Homo sapiens: one gene and its partner. The protein of the gene in region 2 purifies or fractionates together with the protein of the main gene of each other region. This does not show direct contact. Each region holds a gene or a part of one and is shown on either strand. Other genes may lie near its edges.

The links.
Region 1: the proteins of LONP1 (region 2) and EMC2 purify together in Homo sapiens (affinity purification with mass spectrometry; 2 studies listed by BioGRID, with this or other methods). This does not show direct contact.

Annotation. Positions count from the first base shown.
Region 1 is NC_000008.11:108,466,612-108,476,305, reverse strand, and holds part of EMC2 (ER membrane protein complex subunit 2), read right to left. Parts: intron 6,481-9,694; coding exon 6,395-6,480; intron 6,245-6,394; coding exon 6,185-6,244; intron 5,453-6,184; coding exon of another isoform or gene 5,323-5,452; exon of another isoform or gene 5,143-5,322; intron 425-5,142; coding exon 343-424; intron 1-342. UniProt on the Homo sapiens protein: Part of the endoplasmic reticulum membrane protein complex (EMC) that enables the energy-independent insertion into endoplasmic reticulum membranes of newly synthesized membrane proteins.
Region 2 is NC_000019.10:5,702,740-5,712,433, forward strand, and holds part of LONP1 (lon protease homolog, mitochondrial isoform 1 precursor), read right to left. Parts: intron 9,264-9,694; coding exon 9,032-9,263; intron 5,665-9,031; coding exon 5,603-5,664; intron 5,088-5,602; coding exon 4,958-5,087; intron 4,405-4,957; coding exon 4,321-4,404; intron 3,254-4,320; coding exon 3,033-3,253; intron 1,480-3,032; coding exon of another isoform or gene 1,377-1,479; exon of another isoform or gene 992-1,376; intron 1-991. UniProt on the Homo sapiens protein: ATP-dependent serine protease that mediates the selective degradation of misfolded, unassembled or oxidatively damaged polypeptides as well as certain short-lived regulatory proteins in the mitochondrial matrix.

The DNA of each region.
Region 1 (9,694 bases), on a different chromosome or scaffold from region 2:
CTTTAATACAAATTTCCCAGAATATGGATTTAACAATCATAATCACTATAAATGTCTCACAAGCCATTAAGTGGTGACAAATGTGATATAACTTATAATTAGGAAAGAAAATAGTATACAAATATAAAAATACAAGGAATTTCACTGTTTTAAGTATGTCTTAAGTCAGTATTACCACTGCAATGTTAAAAATTTTAAACTTTTATTCCCACAATTCAATGCTCATCAGATGTTTTAAATATTTATATACTTGCTTAACATCAAGGAAATATTCTTAGTTCCATAATAACACCGAATAGTAACCAAAATAAAATTATATGCCATTGTTCTGAAAACACTTACTTCAGCATACTGCTGACAGTATAAGTGGTTGTGTGGATTAGTCATCATTAGTTCCTCTAAACAAAAGGCTGCTTTTGCATAGCTAAAAACACATCAAGAGGAGAAATTAATTTTTAAAGTCACAAATTTTTATCTTAGTTAAACCTTGAAATAATTTAAAAACAACTTTAGTCATGTTAAACAATTTATTCCCAATATAATTTACATAGCTTTATTAATAAAGTATTTGTCATCTGAAATTCATAAATATCAATGACATTAAATTTTATCATGAAATTAATAAACACAGGCTTAAATCTTAAAGCAGCCTGCAAACAATCAATAGATACTACATTTCAAAAACTGGGTCACTCCTACTACATCCCATCACTACTAATAAGAAGGGCTTCAAGACCTTGGATCAAGCTGTATATAAAACAACTTCTGGAAGTTGACTGATCATTTAAAAAAATATTCAAACAGCTAATGTGTAAGGAGAAAATAAACATTTTATTAAATATTCTCTACTCACTAAAAATTCTTCACAGGCATATATTTACCAACATATTCTATTACAAAGATTTCTCTCATTACTTAAGTTCACTGTCAAATACCAAATTATAATGAAGTTATAAATTTCTAAGCCCATGAAAAACAGATCAAGTTGGTTTTGATATATACTGTACTATTATTTAATCTTGTGGTAGAATAAACAAAAATCTTGCTGAAAACCTAAGGAAAGAGAACTGCCAGAAAGAGCTCTGGAAAAACATTTTAAAGCATGTGACTGTAATTCACTAAATATATTTTAAACGTTTAATGCCATGTGACTATCCTCACTATCTACAGGAAATTCTAATGAACACAGGTGTTACAAGATTTCTTCCCAGTGAGGAAGTGATGACACTACCCAACAAAAAGAGGCTACCTAAAGTTATTTTTGGCATTTACCAGTATACAAAGGGATCTACCTTTACACTACTGCCTGATATACTTTTAAAAATTATTTTCCTGTTTCACACATGTATACTAATAATAGCTTTTACTAAATGCTTATTACGTGTCATGCATTGTTCTAAATGTGTTACATGTATTAACTCATTTAATCCTACCAAAACCCTAGGAAGAAGGAAATTATTATCAACATGCTAGAGCTGAGAATACTGAGGCACAGAGATGTAAACTGAATCCCAGGCTGTGCCACTCCAGACAGCCTGTACTCTTCAACCACTACATATGCTGCTTATATGCATTACACATCACATTGAAAAACTGAAGATGTCAATGGTAACATGAAAATGTGTACAGCAGTCACACCCAAAGGGACTGAGGAAAAAAAATACACCCTGCAGATTACCTAATAATTACAGCATTTTAGATTTATGAAGGACCACATATATATATGTATGTGTGTGTGTGTGTGTGTGTGTACTCTCATCCAAGATCATGCAGCTATTTAGCCCTTTCCATTTTTAAATTCAAAACCTAGCATTGGTTCTTGACACATGATAGGTATTTAATAAGACTGAACAAATGATTGAATAAATGTCTAAAACAAATGTGTTATGACTACCTACCTAATATATATTTATCACTCGAAAAGAAAAGGGAAAATTTGTCTCTACCTTAAACACTTTATCAAAAGACAGTTCTCTTCTAAATGTGTTCCTTTAATTATTAATAGTATGATGCCAAAAATTCATATTGAGACTAAGAATAAAAGTTCTTAGACATTTAAATGGGTTGAGCACAACTGTGACACTGGTGCATAAAGCAAGATAAAATGGGCAGGTAGTAGCAGCTCTTAGGGTAAAATGAATACCAAGATATTTTCTCAAAAATCAATTAGCATCACATATGAGAAAAGGACTCCTTCCCCCAATTTTATAAAGTACAGTATCAAACTAATTTTGTGGATAAAATATAGAATTAAATAAAATTAGAGCTAGAAGGAGCTCAACAGATGGTCTAGTCCAGCTTTTCTAGGCCATTGTTAGGCCACGCAGAAAGTGACTATTTCCTCAGTCTTGTCAGGGATAATACATAGCCAGTACTATTCTAGGTGCATAGAGAAGTTAATTCATTACACACAGTGACTCAACAAGACTAAGAATAGAGAAGTAAAAATAATTTGAATCTACTTAAAACAGAATAACAATTGTTATTACAATATTAGAGTCAGTACTAGAACTAAATAAAGTTTTCTTCTCTTCCTTACAAAAGTATATATAACTAAAGGTTACAGTATTTGGTACTGTGTGTTACTTTACCAACATCACAATTTTTCCTTAAAGAATTGTGGTAATTCCGTTGATATGGAATTTTAAAAGGCTGGACTTATGAAAAGGAACTATAATCACAATCATAATTAATGTATAATACTAACTGTTCCTTGCTGTATAGTATCTAGTTTCAATAACAAATGAAGTAAAAAAATTTGTCTTTCATAATGTGAATGTATTTTTGCTTACAAAGGTTGGGTATCCCTTAACCAAAATGCTTGGGACCAGAAATGTTTCAGATTTCAGAAGTTTTCAGATTTTAAAATATCTGCATTCTTACTGGTTGAACATCCCTAACGCAAAAATCCCAAATCCAAAATGCTCCAATGAGCATTTCCTTTGAGCATCATGTTGGCACTCAAAGTTTCAGATTTTGGAGTATTGTGGATTTCAGATTTTCAGGTTATGGATACTTAACCTATAATACATATTGGTAGTGCTGACACAAAAAAATTAACTGTAGTTTTAAAACTTTAGAACAAGTGTCTCAATATGGTCAATGGATGTAACATATATCCCTGGAATAACTAAAAACAAACTATAAATCAGAAACAAACTTATAAAAGTAACTTAAAAATATAAAAAGGTTACATGGCACAATTCTATATCCCTTTTTCTCTCTATAGAAACATTAAATAGGGCTATATGAAAATTATACTATAGATATTTATTTGGAGTTTAAAAATTCCAGAGCTGGGCACAGTGACACACCTGTAGTGCCAGCTACACAAAAGGCTGAGGTGGGAAGAGTACTTTAGCCCAGGAGCTCAAGTCTAGCCTGGGAAATGTTGTAGACTCTGTCTCTTAAAGAAAAAAAATAGTTCTAGATATAGGCTACCAAAGCTGCCTGCGACCTATTATACTTAAAAAAGCTTACAACTGTTCATATGCAGAAAGGAATATCGAATGTTAAATATATCTGACATTTTCGAAACTGCTACGTTTTTGCCACTGTGTCCCCAAGACTGGTGCTAAAACTGATATCCTACGATAATTTAACATTCCATCAAAAAATTCCTGCCTCCTATAATGACTTGCTCAAACATGTCAAATGAATCAAGTGAACTGATTGTAATTTTCACAGTTTCAAAAAAACCTGTAGATATGCATTTCCAGTCACCTAAACATAAATATTCCTTCTAAGTGTTCAATTAGAAAAAAAAAATGGTCATTTTGTAACTAACTAGCTTTAAGACCAAAAAGAGTTTTGTGATACTAGATAAAAGGGTAGGCTGACCATAATTATCATTTTCTCTAAAAAAATATTTTTAGGTGCTCCTACATCTTTGTAAATCTTCATTTTTTGAGATTTCTCAGTTCATTTCTCTTAAGTGTACATTCACCTCTGTTTCAATAAACTCTTTAGATTCCAAACAAAGCAAAACTGAAGGTGGTACCACATGGTGAAAAAAATAAGTAAATTTAATGGTAGGTTAAAAATAAGGTATAACCTAAATTTGATGATGAAATAAATATTAGAAATACATGCAAAAAAATAAAATTGCAAATGAAGTAGGGGGAAAAGGTGATATATTTTTAAGCTATTAAAGGACAGCAGACATGATAATGTTAAAAATTGATGAATCTGATTTTCTAAAAATGTAAAGTTTCTATAATTTTAAGAAGTCAGTATTTAAAAAGCATATAACAAGGATATACTTTTGACAAATGGTTGCTCTCCTTTATAAAAAGAGCTCGTAAAAATGAACTAAAAAGGTAGAACCAATTTCACCTATCAAACTTGTAAAGATTAAAAAAGAATCATAGTATCCAGTGTTGTTAAAGAGGGACTCTAGTAAATGCTGGTGTGCAAGTAAATTGATGTTACCATTCTAGGGAACAATCAGGAACTATTTATCAAAACCACAGAAAATGTACATCTTATTTAATCAAGCAATTTTACTTCAAAGAATTTAACCCAAGGAAACAAAATAAAAATGATCACTACAGCATTATATATAAAAATATAAAACAACCTTTATATCTCCCTAGGAAACTCGTTAAAAATACTAGGGTAAATTAGTAAGATGAAATAATATAAAGCCATTCAAAACACACTGTAGATTGTTACAGTGACAAGAAATTTTTGAACAAAATATAACTAAGGGAAAGTATAAACTACGGAAGATAATTTTATTTTGGGCTTTTATTTTAAAAGATAAGGAAGGACAAAAACCAAACAAACTATAGTTAACTTAGGATGCTGGAATTACATGTAATTTTTGTCTTGGTCTTTATGCTTTACTGTGTTTCTCAAATTTTCTGCATTAGGTATTCCTTTAACTTGAAAAAAAAAATTTCCTTGTTGATTTGAAATGTTTTAAAATGCTTTTAGTCAGAAAATCTTTAGAAAGTACAAAAAATGTTAAATGACTGTCACCTGTTTTAGAAACAAAATAAAATTAATGCTAATTATTTTTACTATACTCTAAAAATTCAATTTCATGTATTTAAATATAAGTATTATATACTGTTTCACATGTGTAAGAAATCATGAGTATGTTTACATATGTGTACATACAAGCATATCATCTATACTGAATGTGATTCAGGAAATAATTTCCTAATCAAAACCAGAATATCTGTTTCAGAGTATAGCAGAGAACTTGAAAAACAGTTCCTAGAATATAGTATACATTCATTAAATTACAGCTATTACTTTTATTTTAGCTCCCACTTTCCTTAGACTTATGCAAATAGACTACCTCAATCCTCTAGATCACATTATATATATAGACCACAGACAATAGACAAATGTCTTCATTCTGTTTCTCATCAGTTGTTTGTAGTATGAGAACAAGGTTAAATATTCATGCACAAGAAAATGCGCATGAGAATCTGATTCTATTCTGTCAAAAAGAAGGAAAAGAAACAATGTCATATACTTCAGATTTAGAAGAACTAAGAAAAAAAATAAAAAACACGCCTCTAGATGGAGGTTAGCATTAATGCTGTAATATTAGAAAACTTGCACTAAGACTCTGGACTAATCCTCTCACACTGGGATTTCCTCCTGTCACTACAGCAATAAAAAAGCTAACAAAAACATTAAACATCCAATAAGCAAGATCCTAGAGCATTCAACATTCTTGATTATTCTCAGTTTTTTACCCAGGCAACAGAATGCTTCTACTTTGGAAGAGTTGATTCTCTTAGTACTAAGGCTAATACATGCATACAATTGACAGAATTTTTAAACAGCAGGGAGTATAATACTCTTTGTATATAAGAACAATCTGAACTCTAAAAATTCACAATTTTGATTTACCAAAAATAAACTTAGCTTAGCAAATGCAGGCCTTTTTATTTCCAAAGAATGCCATCTATATTTGAAAGAAAAACTTATTTCCTAAACATAAACAATTTGGCAAAACACAAATGACCTAGTTAAAGCTATTCACTTATTATGACCAGTGAATTACTGATTTGTTCTTTTTCATTTAATTGTTGATTTGTTCTGTTTCTCATTTCAAATGACATGATTCACACCCTCTCACCAATCCTTTGGAAACCACAGTGCTTTCTGAACTTACAGTGATGAAAACTGCACTCAACAAAATGTTGTGTGTTTAATAACTTACTCATGTTCATTGATGTAAAGTTCTGCAAGTTCATGCCAGGCTTCTTGGTCTCCAACAAATCTGGTGAGAGGAAAAGAAAAAAAAGTAAGTGTGTAGATATTCTGTAAATGAACAGCATGAAAACAAACAGGAAAATCAAATGCAAATTCCATTTTAATTAAAAAAGATTTATCAGAATAACAAAACACAATCCTCTTGTAAAATACTCACTGTTCCAGATACTCATTCAGCTCCCGAATGGCCTCCACATTTTTCCCCTGGGCTTTTCGAATGGCAATCTTACGCTTTCTTGCAGCCTGTGGGTTGACATTAATAAAGGATTAGGCCCTTATGATTCCTTGGGGTTTTGTAAAGAAGGTAATTTGACTGTGCAAATTATTATCTCAATGCCAGAGAAATTCCATTGTAGAACTACTGCTTAGTGGGAGTTTATAAACATACCCCATGACATCCCACTGGGGAATTCAAACATTCCTCTAACAATCACATATGCTTTACTTTTGATGCACACAATGTATGCATCGTTTCATCCAAATAAATAATCATCCAGATTCTGATAATTATTAACCAGCAGGGAATCTTAATCTTTATCCAACTTAAAGCCCTTTACTCTGTCTCATTCATAAGATCTGTATCCTAAGAGGGGGAGGAACAGTGGAGATTAGGGGAAAAAAAATCTCACCATGGCATGGCCTTTGAATATCATTATATAAATATGTCTTCTGACAACTTTTTCACAATTTTAAGAGAAAATCTACCTATGAGTCTTTCACAAGAATAATACAGTCCTGAAATAAATATTGTATGATAAGCAAAACAATTAGAAGCTGTATTCTAAAGTTTTTAAAATGATAAACATAAAAATCAATGCCATTTATTGTGCATTCATCAAATATGTACCAGACTTCTACTGTTTGCCAATATTGTGCTACACAATGAAAATATAAAGATAAAAAAGAAATGATAATTCCTTGCAGAAGCTCATTCTCATGACAAAAACGTATCAAATAAAAAAGTTAATGCAGTAAGAGCAATGACAGGGATATCTAGGGTGTTATGAAAATAAGGAAGAGATTCTGACACATGCTGTGTCAGAGTGGACGAACTGGAAAGACAGAAAGCAAAGACGGTCCCACATATGATACGTGTACTGAAACAAAGAGTAAGTAGACATTAAAAAACAAAACAGGAAGTTATTTATGGAAACTGCATAGTGGGAAGAACACATGAGCAAAGGCCTAGGAGAAAGCAGTACTGGCTGAAGTAAACAGTCAGGGACTGGAGCATACTGTATAAATTATTAAATTTACGTCCTCTCTATTTATGTTTGCTTCAAATACAGAAGGATAAACAATAAACCATACTATAACTGAGGCCAAGCTAAACTTATTAATTATGAATAAAATTTCTTATTGTTGATATAATATTCCACAAGATGCAGACAGAAGTAAAATGGATGTGGTCTCTTTACAGTATCAAGAGCTACTCATTACGGGGTGGTAAGAGAGTGATTTGGCTCTGAAGAAATGAAAGTGAAAGTTTAGAGAAATCAAGAGACTAATAAATAAGGGTCAGAGCAATGTTTATAATATTTTGGGTAATTAAAAAATGATGTTTTAATAATATATATCCTTAAGCATATCCTGAGAGTAAAAAAAATAAAAAATAAAAAAAGAATCTATATCCTTAATTAATCAGGTCATGGCAAAGGCCTTTAGCACAATGCCTGTCACATAGTAGGCACAAGCAAATATTTTTAAAATAAGTTTACTAAGTAAAACAAAAATGTGCCACAATAAATGCAAAGTTTTAAAAGTCTCAAGAACTCAGAAGAAAAGTAAAAGTAAAGCTCTGAAAGTAACTCAAACCCTAAAGCCATTAAGAATTTTAGACTTAAAATGGGAGCATTGTCCCTAGTCCTCCAAATAGATGAGGGATAAATTAACATATAATCAGGAAACTTTCGGCCATTTAATATCTGATTTCACCAAAATCTGAAACATAATTTAATCTTTCATTTTTCATGACATTACTTCTTCCATAGACAATATACAGAGCATAATGTCTGTTTTGAAATCCAAAAGACAAGAAACTGAATCCCAACTCTTATCACTTACTAGTTTTAACCTCTACAAACCTCAGTAATACCATCTATCTTCAAGCATCAATATAAAGCAACTAACACAGCATATAATAATATTAAATAAATGTTATCTTCCTTTCTTTAACATTTGGTTCTAGACTTAATGTTTACGTGTTAAACCTTGCCACAAAATTCTAACTAAGCAATCTTTAAAGGACTGGCACAGACTTGCTTTATTTGATATTTATATCTTGTCCCAATCCTTACAGGATTTGCAACAGCAGAGATGAGATACTGTAAGCAGTGAAAACTTGTTGAAAACAGTTGGATTCACCTGGGAGCAGTGGTGCATGCCTGTAATCTCAGCACTTTGGGAGGCTGAGGTGGGAAGATCACTTGAGCCCAGGAGTGAGAGACCAGCCTGGGCAACATAGTGAGACCCTGTCTCTACAAAAATAAAAATAAATAGACATTTTTAAAAAAGAAAATATTGCATACAAATGCCACAAATCAAACAAAAAAATTAGCTGAGCGTGGTGGTGTGCACCTGTAATCCCAACTACTTGGGAGGCTGAGGCAGGAGAATCAACTGAACCCGGGAGGTGGAGGTTGCAGTGAGCTGAGACTGCGCCACTGCACTCCAGCCTGGGCGACAGAGCGAGACTCGGTCTCAAAAAAAAAAAGCCACTTAAAGTCTTAAAGTTTTGCCACATAATTCAAAGCATATCTAAAATTTTAAACAATATACAAGGTATCATACATAAAATAACCAATTATAATAACAAAAACACTGGTTCAAAAAACTAAGATAAAAATAGAAACGCACATCTTAGTTTCCACGCATTCATACCAAACAGTACTGGACACTGAAGGAAGTATCTACTGCAGATCGGTAGCTATCTGCAGAATAAATGAATACATCACAAATTTTACAATTGGAAAGAACTGAGGAGCAGGCAGTGATAATTACATCTCTTCATTTTACATAGACAAAAAACAAAGCCCAGACTTACATTGCAAATCCTGGGACTCCTGAATCTGTTCATGTCTCTTTTTTGCCATAGTCTCTTGCTCTCTGGACACTTAATACTCAGCTGTCCAACTCCTTATTCATATAATGTCTAACTGTGAATAAAGAGTCCAGCAGCTTATCTCCCAAAAGCCACACAAAACCCTAGGTTTTGAATGATTATCAAGCAACCAGAATGAGGTTCAACAAGGCTTCTTGTGGCTTCTGGGTCTCATTTAGGGCACACAAAAAAGGCTTGTAAAAAAGACCAATTTTGGCCAGGTGCAGTGGTTCATGCCTGTAATCCCAACACTTTGGAAGGCCAAAGCGGGAGGATCATCTGAACCCAGGAGTTTCAGAACAACCTGGACAACACAGCAAAATGTTATCTCTACGAAAAATTTTAAAAGATTACTTG
Region 2 (9,694 bases):
ACATGTGCTGTGTCCACTCAGGGTTAAATGGATTAAGGGCGGTGCAAGATGTGCTTTGTTAAACAGATGCTTGAAGGCAGCATGCTGGTTAAGAGTCATCACCACTCCCTAATCTCAAGTACCCAGGGACACAAACACTGCGGAAGGCCGCAGGGTCCTCTGCCTAGGAAAACCAGAGACCCTTGTTCACTTGTTTATCTGCTGACCCTCCCTCCACTATTGTCCTATGACCCTGCCAAATCCCCCTCTGCGAGAAACACCCAAGAATGATCAATAAAAAAAAAAAAAAAAATTAGCTGGGCGTGGCAGCGGACACCTGTAGTTCCAGCTACTCGGGAGGCTGAGGCAGGAGAATGGCATGAACCCGAGAGGCGGAGCTTGCAGTGAGCCGAGATCGTGCCACTGCACTCCAGCCTGGGCAACAGAGTGAGACTCCATCTCAAAAAAAAAAAAAAAAAAAAATTTACAAACTGCCCTGTCCAAAGCACCCAGTGCAGGAAGGAGGAGATGGCCGGAGGTCCACTGCTGACTCATCAGGAGAGCCAAGACGGCACTGGCTTCTGCCCAGGGCTGAGTGAGCAGAACCACAGAGGGGACGAGGCTTAGAAAATGGGACAAGGCCTGACCCAGGGCAGGTGGGGAAATGGAGGCCAGGTCCCCTGCCGGGAGAGTGACGCTGAAGGTTGGGAGGGCAACTCCATATTGGTCCCCAAGTTGGGAGCCGTGCAGCAGTGAGCAGCGGCCACTATGGGCCAGGAGCAAGTCAGTGAGGGCTGCAAGAGCACACGGCAGGATTGGGGAAGAGGATGAAGAGGAGGACGGCTTCCGAGGAAGGGCCAGGCGGCCCCACGAGCAGACACCGTCAGGGCGCACTGCCACCCAACGGGCATACGAGACGCACCGGGACAGGCCAGCTGGGCCACACGGATGCTGGAGTTTAGAGACACATGAAGTCACTGTGGAAGTGACACAGGCAGTGACACTTTGCGGAGAGCATTCTGGGTGGGAGAGGTAGCTGGCAGCCTGCTGCAGGCATCTTGGTGACACGCAGGTACTGAGGGCTTGTCCCCCGTGACTTCCCAGGACCTGAGGACAGAACCCGCCTTACAGACCCCCTCAGCTCCTGGGGGAAGGAGCTATCTGCTTCTGCAGGACAAGGCCCGGTCTGAGCAGGTACTTCCACCAGCCCAAGGGCAGCTGAGGCACTCGCTGGGAGACAGAAGAACCCCGAAAACATCTACGTTCTCCCCCCACAGGAGGCGGCGGCACAGGCCTCTCACATGGCAGCAGGGAACTGCAGATGGGGCTGAGTGAAGGTCCCCGAGACAGGAGAGCATTCTGGGTGACCCAGGGGGCCCAGGTTCCTCACCAGGTCCTCACGACAGGCGGTGGGAGGTGAGAGACTGACTGGAAGAGGCTGCGCTGTGGCTGTGAAGGAGGAAGGGGCCCCGAGCCGAGGGATGCGGGCGCCTCCAGATACTGGGAAAGGCAGGAAACGGATTCTCCTCTGGAGCCTCTGGGAGGGACGGGCCCGGCCCACAGCGGGATCTCAGGGCTCGGCATTGTGTAAGGCACTAAGTTGTGGCACCGTCGGAGCAGCCATGGGAGCTCACAGGCCACTCACCGAAATCGGGGCGTGCTGGGAGGGGAAGCCACAGCCTTCGCGCGCAACCAGTGCCTCTCAGGGCCCTGGGGGAGAGACTCCGGCGACCGTGACATTCAAATCTGAGGCGGGGTCCTGGGCCAGCAGCCAGGAAAGAAACTCATGCCTTCCCTCTAAGCGCTGTCCTACGGCCTGCCCAGCCCTGCCCCGGGGACTTCTGCCTAGAAGCTGCCCTGGCGTGACAACTGGTTCCTGGGCTGAAAACAGAGCATGCTGCATGGGAAGTGGCCAGGTGGGTTCTGTCCTGGCTGGACATGGGCATGGCTGAAAGGATCTCAGAGGTACCTGAGGCCCTCAAACCTGGGGCGGCCACCCTGACTCATGGCATGCTCAGGACAGTGGCCCCCGGGCAAGGCCAGTGCTGCGGGAAGGCATGGTCACTTCCTGGCTGACTCTCGAAGGGGCAACAGAAGCCAGGGGTAGCCTTGCAAAGACAGCCATGGGGACTCCTGGTCCTGGCGAGAAGGCCTGGCTTAGGCCAGGCGTGGTGGCTCATGCCTGTAATCCCAGCACTTTGGGAGGGCAAGGTGGGCGGATCCCTTGAGGTCAGGAGTTTGAGACCAACCTGGCCAACATGGCAAAACCCCATCTCTACTAAAAATACTAAAAATTAGCTGGGTGTGGTGGCACATGCCTGTAATCCCAGCTACTCAGGAAGTTGAGGCAGTAGAATCGTTTCAACCTGGGAGGTGGAGGTTGCAGTGAACCAACATTGCACCACTGTACTCCAGCCTGGACAACAGAGCAAGACTCTGTCTTAAAAAAAAAAAAAAGCCAGGCATGGTGGCTCGCGCCTGTAATCCTAGCACTTTGGCAGGTCAAGGCAGCCGGATCATTTGAGGTCAGGAGTTCGAGACCAGCCTGAACAACATGGTGAAACCCCATGTCTCCTAAAAATACAAAAAATTAACCAGGCGTGGTGGTGCATGCCTATAGTCCCAGATACTTGGGGGACTGAAGCAGGAGAATTGCTTGAACCCGCAAAGCGGAAGTTGCAGTGAGCCAAGATTGTGCCACTGCACTCCAGTCTGGACAACTGAGCGAGACTCCATTTCAAAAAAAAAAAAAAAAAAAAGCAGCCCTGGCTTAGAGCCAGGCGTCCCTGGGCTCAAATCCGTGGCACCACCTGCCAATTCACAGGCCCTGGCCACCAGCTCAACAGCCCCGAGCCTCGATTTCCTTGTAGAATGGAGATGGTGATGATGTGTCCTGCCCAGAACAGGGCTGATACTCGCTGGATGCCTCCCAGCCCGCACCTGCCACACCAAGAAGGTGCCACGGGGCTCCCCGCTGGGTCCCCTGGCCTGCCTAAGATGGGGGCTGAGGAGGGGTCACCTGAGGGCTGGGCCGCCCCGGGCCTGGCACTCACTTGAACTCCGAGGAGTGGTTGTCCAGCAGGCCCAGCTTGCTCAGCTCCTCGTCCACAACATCCATGACGTGCTTGGGGACCACGAGCTCCTTCAGGCGCTCCCGGAACTTCTCCTCGATGGCATCCTTGTCGTCCTTCTCCAGGCCCAGCTCCTTCTTGATGATCTTTAGCTGCTCCTGCAGCAGGTACTTACGGTGGGTCTGCTTGATCTTCTCCTCCACCTGTGGGGTGAGGTGCTGCCATCAGGCCCTGGCTCCGGGAAGCTGGGTGGGTGGGTGCGTCCCCAGACGAAGGGGGACCCTCTGCTCCCCCAGGACTCAGAGAGAAAAGAAACGAAACCCAGAGCACGAAGCCTTTGGTTCCTTCCATCTTCTTTTGTTTTTGAGACAGGGTCTACCTGTGTTACCCAGGCTGGAGTGCAAAGGCACCATCATAGCTCACCGTAGCCTCCACCTCCTGGGCTCAAGCGATCCTCCTGCCTTAGCCTCCTGAGTAACTGGGACCACAGGCACCTGCCACACCTGGCTCTAATTTTAAAATTTTTTGTAGAGATGGGGCCAGGCGCGGTGGCTCACGCCTGTAATCCTAGCACTTTGGGAGGCTGAAGCGGGCGGATCACTTGAGGCCAGGAGTTCAAGACCAGCCTGGCCAACATGGTGAAACCCTGTCTCTACTAAAATACAAAAATTAGCCGGTGTGGTATTGCACGCCTGTAATCCCAGCTACTCGGGAGGCTGAGGTGGGAGGATCACTTGAGCCCTGGAGGTGGAGGCTGTAGTGAGCTGAGATTGCGCCATTGCACTCCAGCCTAGGTGGCCGACTGAGACCCTGTCTTAAAGTAAAAAATTCTGAAAAATGCTACGACCGTGAGGTGACCGGCCATCAGGCAGGCTGTGATCTGCCGAAAATCATGACAGCGAGCCTCAATGGCTGGGTCTTAAGAAACAGCATCTTCACTTTTCCCAGGCTGCTTTCCAATTTCCAACACTGTCCCCAAGATTACAAAGGCAAAGGAATTCTTCCCTTAATGTTGGACGGTCCTGAGACTGCTCCACCCTGGGCTCATTACACTGGGACCAGCTTTAAGCTTCCCTGTTCAACGCGGAGAGTTCCACAGCCCAGGACGACAGAGCAGATGATGGCACGAAGCCCTCAAAACCCAGACAGGCCTTCTTGGCTTGCCCTGGCCGATGCCACCGGTCCCTCCGTGTGCTCCAGAGCCTGACTGATGTCACGTGGCCCGAGGGGAAGGCCCCCAAGAGTGGCTGCGCCTCAGCCGCGGGCTCACCTCCCGCCCCAGGCGCTGCTGCAGCTTGCTCAGTTCAAATTCCTTCTTCAGCAGGGAGAGGGCCTTGTACAGCCGCTTAGGAATCTGCCGAGACAGGGAGGACAGAAAGGATGAGCAGAAGTCGGCATCTGTGTGTGTAGGGCCGAGGTTGGGGGAAAATGCGCACCCTGAGAGATGCTGCCGGGAGGACCTGGCCATGCTGTACCCAGCACAGAGGCATGTGTGCCCTCTGCCCCAACAAATCCCGTGCTGGAAACGCATCCTACGGATACTTCACAGGCCCTCCAGCTGCGTGCATGGGGACGCGCTCAGGAGTGCTGCTCACAACAGCAAAAGACTGGCAACGCCCCGGGTACACGGCCCAGAGGATCCCACTGAACCCGCAACGGTGACTCCCAACCGAAGGCTATGAAGCCACCGAAAGGCGGATGGATGTGGACCAAGACACGCAGCGGGAAATCATCTCAAAAACAGAGCCAGGGACACACAGCTGGGTGTGGATGGTGCACGGTGGAGGGACAAGGGCAGCCAGGCATGGGGGAGCTGAGGAGGAACGGGGGCAGCCGGGCGTGGGCGGAGCATAGTGGAGGTGGGGTGCAGCCAGGCGTGGGGGGCTGTGGAGGTGACGAGCACTCACATTGGTCTCTTCCAGGACGTCCTGCAGCTCATGGGACTCGGCCCCGGTGAGCGCGGCGCCCATGTCGCTCAGGTAGATGGGGTTGTCCACCACCCGCTGGCCAGCCTGCATCATCTGCAGCACTGACTCCCTGGGGGACAAAGGGAGCTGCCTCGGTGGCCAGGGCCTCACGCTCTGCTGCAGTGCAGCCCCCAAACGGGGACCCGGTCCTCAGGGTCCCTGTCCCCTGTAGCTATGGGCACGGTCTAGGGGTGCTCGCTGGGAGCCAGCTCTGCTGCTTGTTCTCCAGAGTTCAGGGCCCACCCGTCCTGGGCTGGAAAGGCATGCAGCATCCTCACGTGCAGCCACCACGGGAGCCGTGCAGTGACCTCACCTCAGCAGTCTGCTCCCCACTCCCCCAGCCAATGCCACCAACAGCTTCCGGCCTCAGCAGAAGGGGACAAAGAAACTGGGCCTGCTGAGTCGGCCCCGGGCCTCCCACCTGCCCCATGCCCCAGTGGGCAACGGGCTCCTCCACACAGGCCACTCCTTGGGGCAGGCAAGGTTTCCTCCCAGGAGGACGCTGAGGAAGCCCCCTACCCACCCAGCTGCAGAAAGAGCTGCAGAGATGCCCCCGCCTGGCCAGCTGCCCGCACAGAGGCCCACCTGTAGAGAGGGTTCAAGGCAATGATGTCCCGGATGGTCTTCACGATCTCTGCAGTCAGGGCCTGCCAAGTATGGGGCAGGGTCGCTGGGGCCCAGCAGTGCTCCAGCAGGGGGTGGGCTGGGTGGGAGCATGGCCCTGGGAGCCCCACCCACCAGCTCCATCAACTCCCTCCCCTCCGCCAACTGGCCCTGGCCACGGACGGCCTGGGAGATGGAGGAGTGCAGTCCCTGGTGGACTCACCAGTCCCAGGGACACAGGACCAAGAGAGTCAAAACTAAAACCAAACCCTGTCTCCTTACCCCTCAGAGCCTTGTCCTTAGGATAAGCTATCTCAGGGGAAAAAAAGAGACTGTGTTTTCTTTCCTCCATTTTTTAAGAGACCAAGTCTTGGCCGGGCGTGGTGGCTCACGCCTGTAATCCAAGCACTTTGGGAGGCCGAGGCGGGTGGATCATGAGGTCAGGAGATCGAGACCCTCCTGGCTAACACAGTGAAACCCCGTCTCTACCAAAAAATACAAAAATTAGGCGGGCGTGATGGCGGGCGCCTGTAGTCCCAGCTACTCGGGAGGCTGAGGCAGGAGAATGGCGTGAACCCAGGAGATGGAGCTTGCAGTGAGCCGAGATCGCGCCACTGCACTCCAACCTGGGCGAAAGAGCGAGACTCTGTCTCAAAAAAAAAAAAAAAAAAAAAAGACCAAGTCTTGCTCTGTCACCCAGGCTGGCGTGCAGGGCTGCAATCATGACTCACTGCAGCCTTGAATTCTTGGGCTCAAGCGATCCTCCCCGCTCATTTTCCGGAGTAGCTGGGACCACGGGCATAAGCAACTGCACCTGCCTACAACCAAATTTTAATCACCTGGTCTTGGCCGGGCGCGGTGGCTCACACCTGTAACACCAACACTTTGGGAGGCAGAGTTAGGTGGGTCACTTGAGGCCAGGAGCTCAAGACCAGCCTGGCCAACACGGTGAAACCCCATCTCCACTAAAAATACCAAAAAAAAAAAAAAAATTAGCCAGGTACTTTGGTGGGTGACTGTAATCCCAGCTACTAAGGAGGCCGAGGCAGGAGAATCACTTGAACCCAGGAGGCGGAGGTTGCCATGAGCCAAGATTGCGCCAGTGCACTCCAGTCTGAGTGACAGGGTGAGACTCTGTCTCCAAAGAAACCGTAATCACCTGGTCTCTAGTCTTTGGCTTTGACGCTGAACTGTCTGAGCTGACCCTGGTAGAAGGCACCAGAACAGGCCCACTGGAGGTCCGGGGCACTTGCTTTAAGAATAAGTTCAGCTGGGCACAGTGGCTCACGCCTGTAACCCCAGCACTTTGGGATGCTAAGGCGGGCGGATCACGAGGTCAGGAGATCCAGACCATCCTGGCTAACACGGTGAAACCCCGTCTCTACTAAAAAATACACAAAAAATTAGCCGGGTGTGGTGGCGGGCACCTGTAGTCCCAGCTACTGGGGAGGCTGAGGCAGGAGAATGGTGTGAACCCGGGAGGTGGAGCTTGCGGTGAGCCGAGATCACGCCACTGCACTCCAGCCTGGGCGACAGAGGCTCCATCTCAAAAAAAAAAAAAAAAAAAAAAAAAAAGAACAAGTTCGCTGCCCCTAAGGGGTCTTGCCAGTTCTAATCACATTTGTAAGTTTGGTCGCTGTCTTCCCCCTGTTGCAAGATTCTCACAGGGAATGCCCCAATGCTGAGCTGCCCAGGACAGTGTAGCCGCTGGTGGCTGTCTGAATTTTTTTTTTTTTTTTTTGAGACAGAGTTTTGCTCTTGTTGCCCAGGCTGGAATGCAATAGTGCAATCTCGGCTCACCGCAACCTCTGCCTCCCAGGTTCAAGCAATTCTCCCGCCTCAGTAATCCCGAGTAGCTGGGATTACAGGCATAAGCCACCACACCTGGCTAATTTTTTTTTGTATTTTTAGTAGACACGGGGTTTCTCCATGTTGGTCAGGCTGGTCTCAAACTCCTGACCTCAGGTGATCCGCCCACCTCGGCCTCCCAAAGTGCTGGGATTACAGGCGTGAGCCCACCGTGCCCGGCCTGAATTTTTTTATTTTAATTTTTAGATACAGGGTCTCACTCTGTTGCCCAGGCTGGAGTGCAGTGATGCGATCACAGCTCACTGCAGCCTCAATCTCCTGGGCTCAAGCGATCCTCCCACAGGTTAGACCACTGGTGTGTGCGACCATGCCCAGGGATTTTATTTTTTTTGTGGAGACAGGGGTCTCAATATTGCCCAGGCTGGTTTTGAACTCCAGGGCTCAAGTGATCCTCCTTCCTTGGCCTCCAAAAGTGTTGGGATGACAGGCATGAGACACTGTACCCAGCCAATAAAATGTTCCATTCTGTTCCTTGGCCACAGCAGCTCTACTTCAAGTGCTCAATACTCACAGGTGGCCGGGCACAGTGGCTCACGACTATAATCCCAGCATTTTGGGAGGCTGAGGTGGGCGGATCACCCGAGGTCAGGAGTTTGAGACTAGCCCGGCCAACATGGTAAAACCTCGTCTCTACTAAAAATACAAAAATTAGCCGTGTGTGGTGGCACGTGCCTGCAATCCCAGTTACTTGGGAGGCTGAGGCATGAGAATCACTTGAACCTGGGAGGTGGAAATTGCAGTGAGCTGAGATCGTTCCATTGCACTCCAGCCTGGGTTGACAGAGCCAGACTCTGTCTCAAAAAAAGAAAGAAAAAAAAAAACCTCGCAGGGGTAGTGGGGCAGGATAGAAGTGCTGACCTCAAGAACCCAGGTGGGCCTGTGGACAGGACTTTCCACCCCTGCCAGCGCCCACAGCAGACATCACCAGTTGCTCACAGCACTTCCCCCTAGGCCCTGCAGCAGCCTGGGGAAGAGGCTGATGACACCAGGCACACAGGTAAGGAGCTGACACGCTTCAGGCCTTTGGTTAGCTTCGCTGACTGTCCCTACAGCGGGAGGGCAGGTGGCACCGCCAAGAGCCTGCCCACCTCGGAAGCTGACTCCTTGTGCCACCAGGCAGGCAGGACGGCCTAGGTTGGGGGATCAGGGTGGCCAACAGGCTGTTTCCTGTCCTGCAACCACTGGTACCAACCTCCCAGGCTTGGTGGGAAGAAGCCAGGGCTGGAAGGTGTCTTGGTAACCGCTGGAGGCTTTGGCACAGGGGACACGGGCTGGGGCTGGACCTGGGTTCCAACCCTGTCTCCTTCCTGAGCAGCTACAGGCTCCAGCGAATTTCCTGTGCCTCTCCCATCCCAGAGTCTTCCGAAGACCTCTGGGAGGAAAAGCACCCTCTATGTTCCATTAGAATTGAGTTCCAGACAGGCCAGACCCTTCCTAAGGGGCTCAGGGTGGGAGATGACTCTTCGGAGAGGCCGCAGGAACGGCTCAAGGGAGCCCGTGGGGGAGGCAGCTGTGGCCGCCCTGCGTGACGCACGGACTCACTTTCACCTCCTCCGTGACCTGGAAGTCCTCGTGGACAACGTTCTCTACCTCCACCATGAGCACCTCAGCCGGGAGCTCAGGGGTGGGCTCCATCGCCAGCTCCGCCGGGTGCCTGGCGCTCAGCTCGTCCTCCGCCTCCTTCTTGCCCCGCTTTGACTTCCTGCGGGGCTTGTGCTTGTTCTCCGCCTCCGGCTCCTCGGGCTCCACCTCCAGCTGTCTGCTGATATGGACTCTGACACGGGAGCAAGGCAGGTGTGAATCAGCCGCTGAGGCTGGGAGCTGGACCCGGCTGAGGCCTCCCTGGTGGCACAGGTGGTCCAAGGGTCCCGCTGAGCCCAGACCTCTGGAGCCACAGGGTGGCTACAGGGTCCTCAAGCTGGAGACGTGAGCCGCTTTCTCGGGGCCTCCCAACCAGTGTCCCCTCCACCCCTTAGACTCCAGCCAGATTCAGGCATTCCCTGCATCCCACGCCAATGCATCACTGTCCCCATCCTAAGTATCGTGGATAAGCTGCAGTGACAAGCCCCAGGGCCTCCTGTCGAAAACGGTGTCAGCCTGGCCGGGCACAGGCTGGTCTCCAAGACTCTGTGCCCTGGACTCAGCTCATAGCAGCTCCTTCCTGTTGTTCAGGTCTCGATTTCAAGGACACCATCGCAAAGACTG